3 linked regions of the Homo sapiens genome follow. The protein of the gene in region 3 purifies or fractionates together with the protein of the main gene of each other region. This does not show direct contact. Each region holds a gene or a part of one and is shown on either strand. Other genes may lie near its edges.

Region 1 (3,103 bases), on a different chromosome or scaffold from region 3:
CCCCTTGCTCTCTCTCTCTTGCTCCTACTCTGGCCGTGTGATGTTTGTGCTCCTCCTTCACCATCTGCCATGATTGTAAGTTTCCTGAGGCCTCCTGAGAAGCCGGGCAGATGCCAGTGTCATGCTTCCTGTAGAGCCTGCAGAACCATGAGCCAATTAAACCTCTTTTCTTTATAAATTACCCAGTCTCAGGCATTTATAGCAATGCAAGAGCAGCCTGATAAACCTCCCAACAGCTGCGTTCTCCCAGTCGTCTTGCCATCAGTGGAAATATATTACACTATACACAACAGGGATCCTGGGGTCTCCTGTGTGTGAGGGAGCATGTTACATTCTCTTGAGAGTGATGGGTGAGATTTTTAGGTTCATTAAAAGAAAGCATGGGTTAAAAAAAAACCAAAACTTTAGAAACACCGATTTACATTCTCTACCCCCAGGTCTCCTTGTGACGATCACCCCCAAAATTTTCAGATTTTGTCTGGCCATAAAATTGAGATTTGGGCATTATTAGCATCATGTTGGAATCACTGGTGTGAACTAGTTACCATAACCCCCACTGGAGGCCTCTTTAGCCCTTTCTTGTGCATGATACAAAGGGTAGGCAGAAGAAGAGACACAGGCCCTGGGCCCCCAAAGACAAGGCCATCTGAAGGACAGGGTTACGAGTTTATTTCTTGGTGCCTCCAAGAGCTCATGGAAAAGCAGCACAGTGAGCAACAAGCAACAGTGGTCAGTAAATGTATATGACTCAACACATTGCCACAGTCTCAGCTTGGCTGTGTGGTACATGCTGCCAAGGGTCGGGTGCCAAGAGAGAGCAGAATGAAGCCAGGTCCCCAAGGAAGTGAGGGCCCAAAATAGGGAGTGTGGGTGATGAGGGTGGAGTTCAAATCCAGATGTCAGAGCTACAATCGCCCCCAGGGTAGCGGAGCTCATGGGCAAGGGCTGGGCCAAGGGGCTCCTTCCCGAAGTCCACCAGGAAGTTGGGGTTCAACTTCAGCCCTCCTTTTACTGTGTCTACATCAACCTGCAGCATCACAGAGCCTTCCCTGGTGGAAAAGGGAATGGGGTAAGGGAGAGGTCAGAGGTGGCTGCCCCCTTCCCCTAAGATTTTAGGGGAAAGCTCCTGAGGAAGGAGGAATGACCAGGGTCTCAATGGGCCATCTGTGTGGTGGGGTACAGGGGTCTCCTTGAGGAGTCTTCAGAAAGCCAAATGACCCCTCTGGAAGAGGAGGGCTGGGGAGGAGAGCCCATGTGTCTGCTTCTCACCTGATGAGATCAGGGTAAAACTGCTTGTCCCAGGCACTGTACAGCGACGTGGTGATGTAGAGGCGCTTCCCATCCAGGCTGAGCTGGATCATCTGAGGGCCTCCAGCCACCCGTTTTCCCTTGGGAAAACCAGGGGTCAGAGCCCAGGGTAACACACAGATCCTAGGCACCACCCCAACCCCAAGAGTATGCTCAGCTGCTCCCCCACATATTCCTCAAGCATGGGTCTGAGGGGTCCAGCAAGTAGGGGGAGAGGCTCTTACCTTGACCACTAGGGGCTCTGGCTGGGACTTTAGTTCCTCGTCCTCCAGCACTTGCACAGGGCCTCCCTTAACAATGCTGCCTCCGAGGAAGAGCTAGATGGGGAGGTGCAGAGTATAAGGAGGACCATAGTGGGAGGCGCAAACATTGCAGGAAGAGCAGCTTGCCTGGCTGGAACCCCTCTCTCCTTTCAGACATGCTCTGCATGCCCATCCCTGGCCTGGACAGTCCTGGGCCTGTGCTGTCCCACAGCACACATGTCTGCTTTTCCTGCACCTCCCTCAACATCCTGCAGCTGCTTCAGATCATCCACCCCATCCCCAGCTTCTCTTCTCTTTCCTTCCTTCCCTTCTGCTCCTCCTGCCAGGGTCTCCACCTGTCCTGTGAGGCGGGGTCTCTGTGGGTCAGAGATGTCATACTGCCTCAGGTCCCCATGCAGCCAGTTGCTGAAGTAGAGGAAGCGGTCGTCCAGGGAGAGCAGGATGTCGGTGATCAGGCCTGTGGGCAGGGGGCGAGTAGAGCCTTTAAGGACTCTTGTTTCCCAGGCCAAGAATCAACTTTCCTATGCCCTAGGCACTCACCTGGCATTTCGGGCAGCAGCCAGCCCTTCACTTTCTTGGGGGGCACCTGGATCACCTTCTCCACTGACCATGTACCTCCCTACATTGAGGGGTGGAGGGTGAGGTTAGCTGGCAGAGAGGTCAGCCTATCAGAATTGGGGACTAGGGGTTAGATCTGGGTTGCCCAGACCTGGGAGGGAGAGAATAGATGCCCGGCCTTCTTGCCAGCAGGATCTAACTCCATGCAAGCCCCTTGAGGCAGGGGTTGTGTCTGCTTCACCACTGCATTCCCAGAACATAGCACAGTGCCTAGCACAGACATTCACTAAGTAGTTTTTGAATGAATGGATAAATACGGCCAGTTAGGGTTCAGGCAGAAGTTGCCCTAGCACTGAGAGAAGAGAGACAGGGCATGCAGCCTCATTTTTTTCGTTCCTGGAGACGCCTGGGAGCACCGTTACAGAAGCCTGCTTAGGTAGAGCTGCTGACAAGACTACTGGGAGGGGAGGGCCAGAGGGCGTATGTCACCTCGTTCTTGTAGAAGCGCTGGATGGTGGAGCTGAGTGCGCAGCCCACAAAGCCTTGGGCAGCGTCTGGGTTGTGCAGGAAGCGGATCTCCAAGGGAATAAGCCCATCTTTTAGAGACAGGGTCTGCACAATCTCATGGCGCTGCCAGTCCCATACATATAAGTGGCTCCCGTACAGTCCTGGGGTGGGAGTGGGGCCGGAGGATAGGCTCAGCATCAGAGGTTGGAAGGCATGGGCAAAGACTGGGCCACCAATCAGGGCAGAAGGTTAAGAAATGGATTGGAGGGATCAGGAAGACGCTTGAGCAATCTGAGCATGCGGTACATCCTATGCCATCTCTCTTAGATTCTGGGGCCACAGGAGGGAAGTGTGGGGGTGGGAGATTTGGAGCAGAAAGCAAGGGGATGTAGGCCCAAGGCTCCTGCTGGCACATGGGGGGATTCTCACCAGCCTCCACATCAGCGGGGTTGAAGCCATCTCGTAAG
Region 2 (3,652 bases), on a different chromosome or scaffold from region 3:
AATAAGGGATTAAGAGACTGGGGATAATAGCTTGTAAACTACAAGTGATTATTATCCTAATATAGTTTTTTAATAATCAGGAATTTGCCTAGACCAAACATAATCTTCAAGGAAAATGTCACAATGACATGCTTAACATACCCAGGCACAAAATAGTACAAATATATAAAAACAACATAAAGATTATAATTCCCACAGCTCCTTTCCATTCATGCAAATCACTTTCTATTCCAACTGTGAACTAATACTTGTGACCCTTCCACAAAATGCCTGGGAAGTGTGCAAAACCTCCAGTTATAGGGACTTCTTTCAAAGTAATCCATTCTACTCTGCAGTTATCCCCTTTAAGTGTATTAATGGTAAAATGTAAAAGTTGCTAAAATTTTCTCTGGAAACAAATTTTAGGCAGTACTCATTGAGACAAATCTGTTTCCTTTCATCTGATTCTTCCACCTACCAAATCGAAACTCGTATGTCTTAAAATAATACTTACCCAACACCAAGAATGCGTTCACCATGCTTGGTGATGTTTTCCTGACACTCGGTCTTATTTCCCACATGGAGATGATTAACTTGACTACATAAATTCTGGAGAAAAGGCAGCAACTCGGAGTTGGGTATATTTGAGTTGTCACTTACTTTCTTTGGTAAGAAAGAGGCCATTGCATTTTTAAGATCATTTTCAAGAAAGGAATGGTTTTGAGGCATAACTTTACACTCATCAAGCTTGGTAGAATTCTCTCCACCAGGCAGTTGTGTACTTTTATCAATGTAAGTTTGTAAGTTTTCAGTCACGTTCCCAGATGTCAATCCAGTTCTAAAAGGAAAAGGTGTGGAGGACGACTTGTTTAAGGTTCCTAAGGTAGATGAGGATTGTAGTCCAATCATATGCTTGTATCCAGAATTGCCCAACACCGACTGAAGCTGCTCTCCAATGGGAATACAATTCTAAACAAGGTAAACAAGTAAATGTTAATATTAATAACACTGACAGCTAACTTTTGGAGTAATTACTATGAGTCAGGCACTGTGCATTGTTTCATCCAATCCTCAAAACATCCTTATAAAGTAGGCCACTAATACTATCCCAATATTAAGCTGAGGAGACCAAGGCTAAAGGTACCTAGCCAAGGTAACCAGCCAGTAAGTGGCAGAACTGGAACATGAACGCAGGTCACTTAACTCCACAGTCATGACTTTCAATCATTTCATTGTAGTTTTTCCCAAAAGAAATTAAATAAATACTAGCATGAATAGTCAAACTGCACTGACACTAATGTTTCCACTACAAATGTCTCTTTATGATAATAAAATGTACTACTCTCAACTGAGTCACAAGAACCGGTAAGTTTCTTAAAATTCAATTATATCATTCCCAACTGTCAAAATACGGTAAGTTACTCACTTTCATCTAGTAATATCTTTTGCAATGAATTTTTCCTGGAAACTACACAGATAGGTATGCTATTTAAAGTTAGATGCTCTATGGGTACATTTGTGACATTTTCAATGACTGAAATTAGCTACTTCTGGCTGTGTTTGCTCTAAGAATTTCCAGGATAATGAGAGTTGTTTTGCAGCCTCAATTCAACTGGTTATGCAGTATTATTTCCTGAGAAGATTCTGGCTTACCTTGAAGGGATGATTACAGTATCTCCCTTTTATGCTCTTTAATTTTTCCATTGGATAAAAGAAAATATCTCTAGCCTAAGTCTTAAGGCATATGGCTCCACTCTAAATTCAAAACATAAAAGTCTACTATAGATTCTTATCAGGGGTTATCATCCCACACTTATTGCTGTTCAACAGCTGGTGAAACAGACTGAAAAAGCAATATGTAAATTAGCTGAAGAAACTCAGTTCATATACTTATAGATATTCTAAAAAGTTATTACTAGACTAAGCCGGAACAACATTAATTTATTCAACAAATATTTACCAGGAATCTACTCTGTGCTAGTATTGTTTCAAGCACTGGAAATACAGCAGCGAACAAAATAAATTAAAATCCCTGACCTCACAGAGCCTATATGACAGGGGAGCAAGGAGACACAAACTACAAAAGAAAAGAAGGAAAAAGGGGAAAGAAAAGAAAAAGAGAAAGTAAGGGAAAGAGAAAAGAAGTGAAGAAGGAAGAAGAGAAAAAAGTCAAGAAAAGAAAAGAAAGGAAAAAATGTATCATGAAATGGAGATGGTGATAAATACTTTAGGGAAAAATAAAGTGAGAAAGGAGAATAATAAGGGCCAGGGAAGCTGGGGGAAGATTTGTAATGTCATGTCCCCATCTAACTTTTTACCAAACTGCACTTTGGAAAAGTGCTCTTTATAGAGAAATGTTAACCTACTGTAAGTTTATCTTGTTTTATAAAATGCAAGTTTTGAATAAACTTGAATATTTAAATATTCCTGGAATAAGATGAATTATGTAAAATTATATTTATAAAATGTTAACATTGGACAACTCCCCATAAGCTCAAAGAAAGTTACTCAGTCATAACAGGAAAGCCCATTTATTTCTCTATGACATTTCAAAACAAAATGTACAGTGGAAAACTACATTAAGAGTAATAATATTTACACTACAGTCAATGTCAAAAGTATGGGTGAACATTAAGTAGGCAGAACATTTAAACAGAAAAATCTAAATGTAAAGGTATTTGCTATGTAAATTTTTCCTTTCTGACATATAATATTCTGTTTATAAGAATTCACTGATTATGAAAATTAGTCATTGGTTAAGAATGTAAAATAGTATAGCAGTGATGAAAAACAGTATGGAGGCTCCTCAAAAAATTAAAAATAGAACTACCATATGATCTAACAATCCCACTTCTGGGCATATATCCAAAATAACTGAAACTGGGATCTCAAAAAGATTATCTGCACTCCCATGTTCACTGCAGCAGTACTCACAACCGCCAAGATACAGAAACAACCTAAATGTCCATTGACTGATGTATTGATAAAGAAAATGAAATGAAATATCATTGAATGAATATCATACAATGAAATACCATTCAGCCTTTGAGAAGAAGGATATTTTGTCATGTGACAATATGATCAATCTGGAAGACATGCTAAGTGAAATAAGCCAGGCACAGAAGAATAAATAATGGATGATTCCATTAACATGACATATCTAAAATAGTTAAACTCAGAAACAGAGAGTAGAATGGTGGTTGCTAGGAGATGGGGGGAAGGAGAAATGAATTGCTATTCAATAGGTATAAAGTTACAGCTTTACAAGATGAATCTGTTTTAGAGATCTTCTGTACAACAGTGTCTATAGTTAACAACACCATATTGTACATTTAAAAATTTGTTAAGAGGGTAGATCTCATGTTAAGTATTCTTACCACAATTTAAAAAAGGTCACATTTTCTGAGATGAGAGCTCTTTAGATGATCTTTTCTCTTTGGAATAAATATCAAGAAATTCAGATATGTCTACATGCCACTATAGGAAATGAAGAAATCTCAGGTGCCTGGTAGCTAATCCTTTATTTCTCTTTATGTGAGCCTCCACTGTTAACATGCTATTAAAAATTTTGAAGAAACTTAAATATCCATGAATAGGTAACTGCATAATATTCATAAAACCATAGAAAGCTGTATTTATTGATATCCTTTCAAGTGAAAAATGTTCCTGAGCA
Region 3 (3,478 bases):
GTAGGAGAAATCCACCTGCTGGGGGCTGAGTGTGGCCTGAGGGACAGGCCCTGGGTCCCGGGATGCCCCTGCCCGAGCCCAGCGAGCAGGAGGGTGAGAGTGTGAAGGCCAGCCAGGAGCCATCCCCCAAGCCAGGCACAGAAGTCATCCCGGCAGCCCCCAGGAAGCCCAGAAAGTTCTCCAAACTGGTCCTGCTCACAGCCTCCAAAGACAGCACCAAGGTGGCGGGGGCCAAGCGCAAGGGTGTGCACTGTGTCATGTCCCTGGGGGTGCCCGGCCCCGCCACCCTTGCCAAGGCCCTCCTCCAGACCCACCCCGAGGCCCAGCGGGCCATTGAGGCAGCCCCTCAGGAGCCTGAGCAGAAACGGAGCAGGCAGGACCCAGGTGAGGCTCCACAGCGGCCCCCCAGGACAGCTCGGCACCTCCCAGGGTGGCCCCCACAGCCGCGCTGGCTCCATCAGGCGCTTCTCCCTGGCATGCGGGTCCTTGTTCCCTGACTTTGACCACGTGTGGAGAGCAGTGGCACAGGGGTTAGGGCACAGGCCTGGGCATCCGCCGACCTCCAACCCTGCCTCTGAGCGGCCTTGCCTCTCTGTGTCTGTTCCCCACTCTGGAATGCGCTGCCTACTGGCTCCTTCACAAGGGAGGGTCTGAGGGTGCGGCGGGGCCCACAGGCAGCTGCCGTCAGCTTCAAGGTCTTGGCTCGCAGCTGTTCGATGAGGGTCTCTAAGACCGGGGGCTTGATGGGTCACCTTTCCATATGTTCTAGAAAGCTTCTTTGGTCTCACTCACCGTTCAGTCACTTAGTAACATCCACTGAACAGCAGCTGTGTGCAGGCTGGGCTCTGGAGACTCGAGTCACGCAGGATGAGACTCCCAGCAGACTAAGGCAGTGACCTCAGCCTGGCTCTCCGGGACTGCCCCTGCTCTCCCTACCTCCTCTGCACAATCACCCCCCACCAAGCCTCCGGGGAGATACAGCTCAGGGCTCACAGGTCCCATGGGAGAGTGGGGCTGGGGGTGTGGCCCTAGCTGCTGCGGGCTGGCTGGAGGTGATGGGGCAGGTTCATTCCCTGTGCTTTGCTGTGGGAGTGATGGGATGGATGGAGGCACTGAGCATCTTCAGTCCCTGCTCCCACTCCCCAGGGCCCTTGGCTCTGCCCCTGCTGTGTACTAGACCTTTCAGCTAGACTTGGGGAACATAGTCAGGTGGGCCATGGTAGCAGAGATGGGATGAGAGCAGGGCTGCCCCTTTCCCTGCACCCAGCTCTCCCTGAGGTGGCCCAGGCCATGCCCTGCTGTCCCCTGCAGGAGGACAGGTCCCCTCCTGGCCCCACAGCAGGTCCTGCCTCTGGGCTCTACCAGGGCAGGCAGCGGTGGGGGCAGGGCCCTAGGCAGCAGAGGAAATGGGCTGGGTACACCTTTTGAACTGGAAGTTCCAGGGAGATGGGGCAGGGGGCTGCCCAGTGGGTGGGAAGAAGGTGAGTTGGGGTTTCTTCCCAACTGGGAGTGGGCTCTGCCGTGCCCTGAGAAGAAGAGGCGTAGCAGGTGGCCTTGGCTTGTGACCTCTGAACAGGTGGTCCCCTGGGGTCAGCCAGAACAGGTGGTCCCCTGGGGTCAGCCAGGGCACTCAGCCTGGCAGCCCATTGTGAGAAAAGGTTCCTTCAGTTTGCTGGCCGTGCAGGGACCCTGCCTCACTGATGGAAATTGAGGGGTGAGTGGCCTGAGGTCACAGAGGGTCACAGCCCCACAGCCTCCCTGGGGCTGAGACCCCAGAATGCCTGAGATGGTGGTGTCCGCAGCCACAGGCTTGGAGCTTTCAAGGAACCTAATGGACCCCTCGGCCTCCATCCCTCTGCTGGAGTCTCAGGCCTGGTGTGAGCAGTGCTCTGGGACTCAGAGGGACCCCGTCCTCCCAGAGCCGGTGGGAGTGCCTGGCTCTTACTGCGAAGCCCCCACCATCCAGTCCTGCTCTGAGAGCCTCTGCCTGTCCCCCTGGCTTCTCCTGCCAACCTTGGGCAGAGGATGCAGTCCCCATGGCCTGTGGGAGGCAGGGCTCAGAGGAGCGAAGTCGCCACTCTGAGGCCACCAGGAGGTCCCTGCAGAGGGCAGAGGGGGTTGGAGTCTGGCTCAGGATCTGTTACACCTGAGCTCTGTGGAATGAGACCATCTCAAGGTCCTCCCAGCCCCTTTGAGACTCCTGCTCACTGCTGGGATCCATCTAGGCCTGGGGCCGTGGTGCCTTTGTGAGAATTGGAGCACAGCCATCTTCGCCAGATGAAAGGCAGAGCAGGGCTCCATCAGGCGCCAGGGGTCCCGCAGGCAATCACCCTCAGGCATCGACCACCCCCATCTGCCAACTCCTCCATCCTTCCATCCCCACCCCAGGTCCAGCAGAGGCGATGGCTGCGGCTTCCCAGTGCTCAGCACAAACTTGGCCTCAAGTTTCCTGGAAATGACTTTAGCAGCTTTTGTGGCCCTGGCCTGGTGGCCTTGGGAGCAGCGTCCCTGAGTGGCAGTCACTTCTCAGTCAGGCAGAGGCTTCTGGCCCTGGAGCATCCACTGGTTGGGGTGAGAGTGAGGCCTGGTAGACCCCCAACAGCCAAGCTGAGCCCTCCCATCTCCATTGACACCAGCCTGATCCACCCTCTTCTCTCGCAGGCACAGACAGAACAGAAGACAGTGGATTAGCAGCGGGGCCTCCTGAGGCTGCTGGGGAGAACTTTGCCCCCTGCTCTGTGGCGCCCGGCAAGTCCCTGTAACCTTGACAACAGGCGCATCCTCCCAGGCCACCAACCCAGCCATAGGCTCTTCTCTGTCCGCAGGGCTTCTGGGGCCAAATGGGTGAATCTTTGCTTTTAACATTGTGTGATTTCTTTTCTTTTTTTTTTTTTTTTTAGATCAAGTATAAGTTACTTTTGTAAGCAGAAAAATACTTTCAAACAAGAATAAAAGAAGCTGTTCGCTAGACCCCATAATGGGCAGGTTTTAAACATCCCAGGCTTCTGGGTCCTTTGAGGCTCAGCTCTGATGCCACCACCCCTGGGTCTCCGCACCCCAGCCCTTACTGGGCCCTTCCAAAGTGCCCCTTAGTCACTGCCCTCCCTGACCCAAGTCTCGCTTCCTCCATGAAGCCTCCCAGACTGACAGCTCCCAGGCACTAAGGGAGCTCAGGCTTGCTGAGAATGGTAGCTCCAGGATTCTGCTGAGGGAGAGGTAGGCCTGCAGCTCATGGGTGGGTTCAGGGAGGAACCTGACAAAAGCACATGCGGCCTGCCTGTCATGTTTTTTCCAGGGGATTTGTGGGCTGAGGAAACCTGAGTTCCTGCCCTGGCCCCCTGGGTGCCATCCCTGCTGGAGGGGAGATGAAGGAAGCACAGCTACCCTACTTGAGCTCCCAAGTCAGCGAGCCTCCAGGAGGCTTCCCATGAGTCCTCATTCTTTGACAACTGCCTCTGGGCTCAAGGCAATGTTAGGG

What was found.
Region 1: the proteins of FLYWCH2 (region 3) and SELENBP1 purify together in Homo sapiens (affinity purification with mass spectrometry; 2 studies listed by BioGRID and IntAct, with this or other methods). This does not show direct contact.
Region 2: the proteins of FLYWCH2 (region 3) and C10orf88 purify together in Homo sapiens (co-immunoprecipitation; one large-scale study listed by IntAct). This does not show direct contact.

The regions. Positions count from the first base shown.
Region 1 is NC_000001.11:151,363,657-151,366,759, forward strand, and holds the end of SELENBP1 (methanethiol oxidase), read right to left. Parts: coding exon 3,066-3,103; intron 2,798-3,065; coding exon 2,619-2,797; intron 2,191-2,618; coding exon 2,112-2,190; intron 2,029-2,111; coding exon 1,907-2,028; intron 1,626-1,906; coding exon 1,533-1,625; intron 1,389-1,532; coding exon 1,270-1,388; intron 1,050-1,269; coding exon 887-1,049; 3' UTR 648-886; downstream 1-647. UniProt on the Homo sapiens protein: Catalyzes the oxidation of methanethiol, an organosulfur compound known to be produced in substantial amounts by gut bacteria. Selenium-binding protein which may be involved in the sensing of reactive xenobiotics in the cytoplasm.
Region 2 is NC_000010.11:122,937,212-122,940,863, forward strand, and holds part of C10orf88 (ATPase PAAT), read right to left. Parts: intron 949-3,652; coding exon 494-948; intron 1-493. UniProt on the Homo sapiens protein: ATPase that regulates mitochondrial ABC transporters ABCB7, ABCB8/MITOSUR and ABCB10. Regulates mitochondrial ferric concentration and heme biosynthesis and plays a role in the maintenance of mitochondrial homeostasis and cell survival.
Region 3 is NC_000016.10:2,896,388-2,899,865, forward strand, and holds the end of FLYWCH2 (FLYWCH family member 2), read left to right. Parts: 5' UTR 1-62; coding exon 63-384; intron 385-2,388; coding exon of another isoform or gene 2,389-2,459; exon of another isoform or gene 2,460-2,567; intron 2,568-2,661; coding exon 2,662-2,762; 3' UTR 2,763-2,978; downstream 2,979-3,478.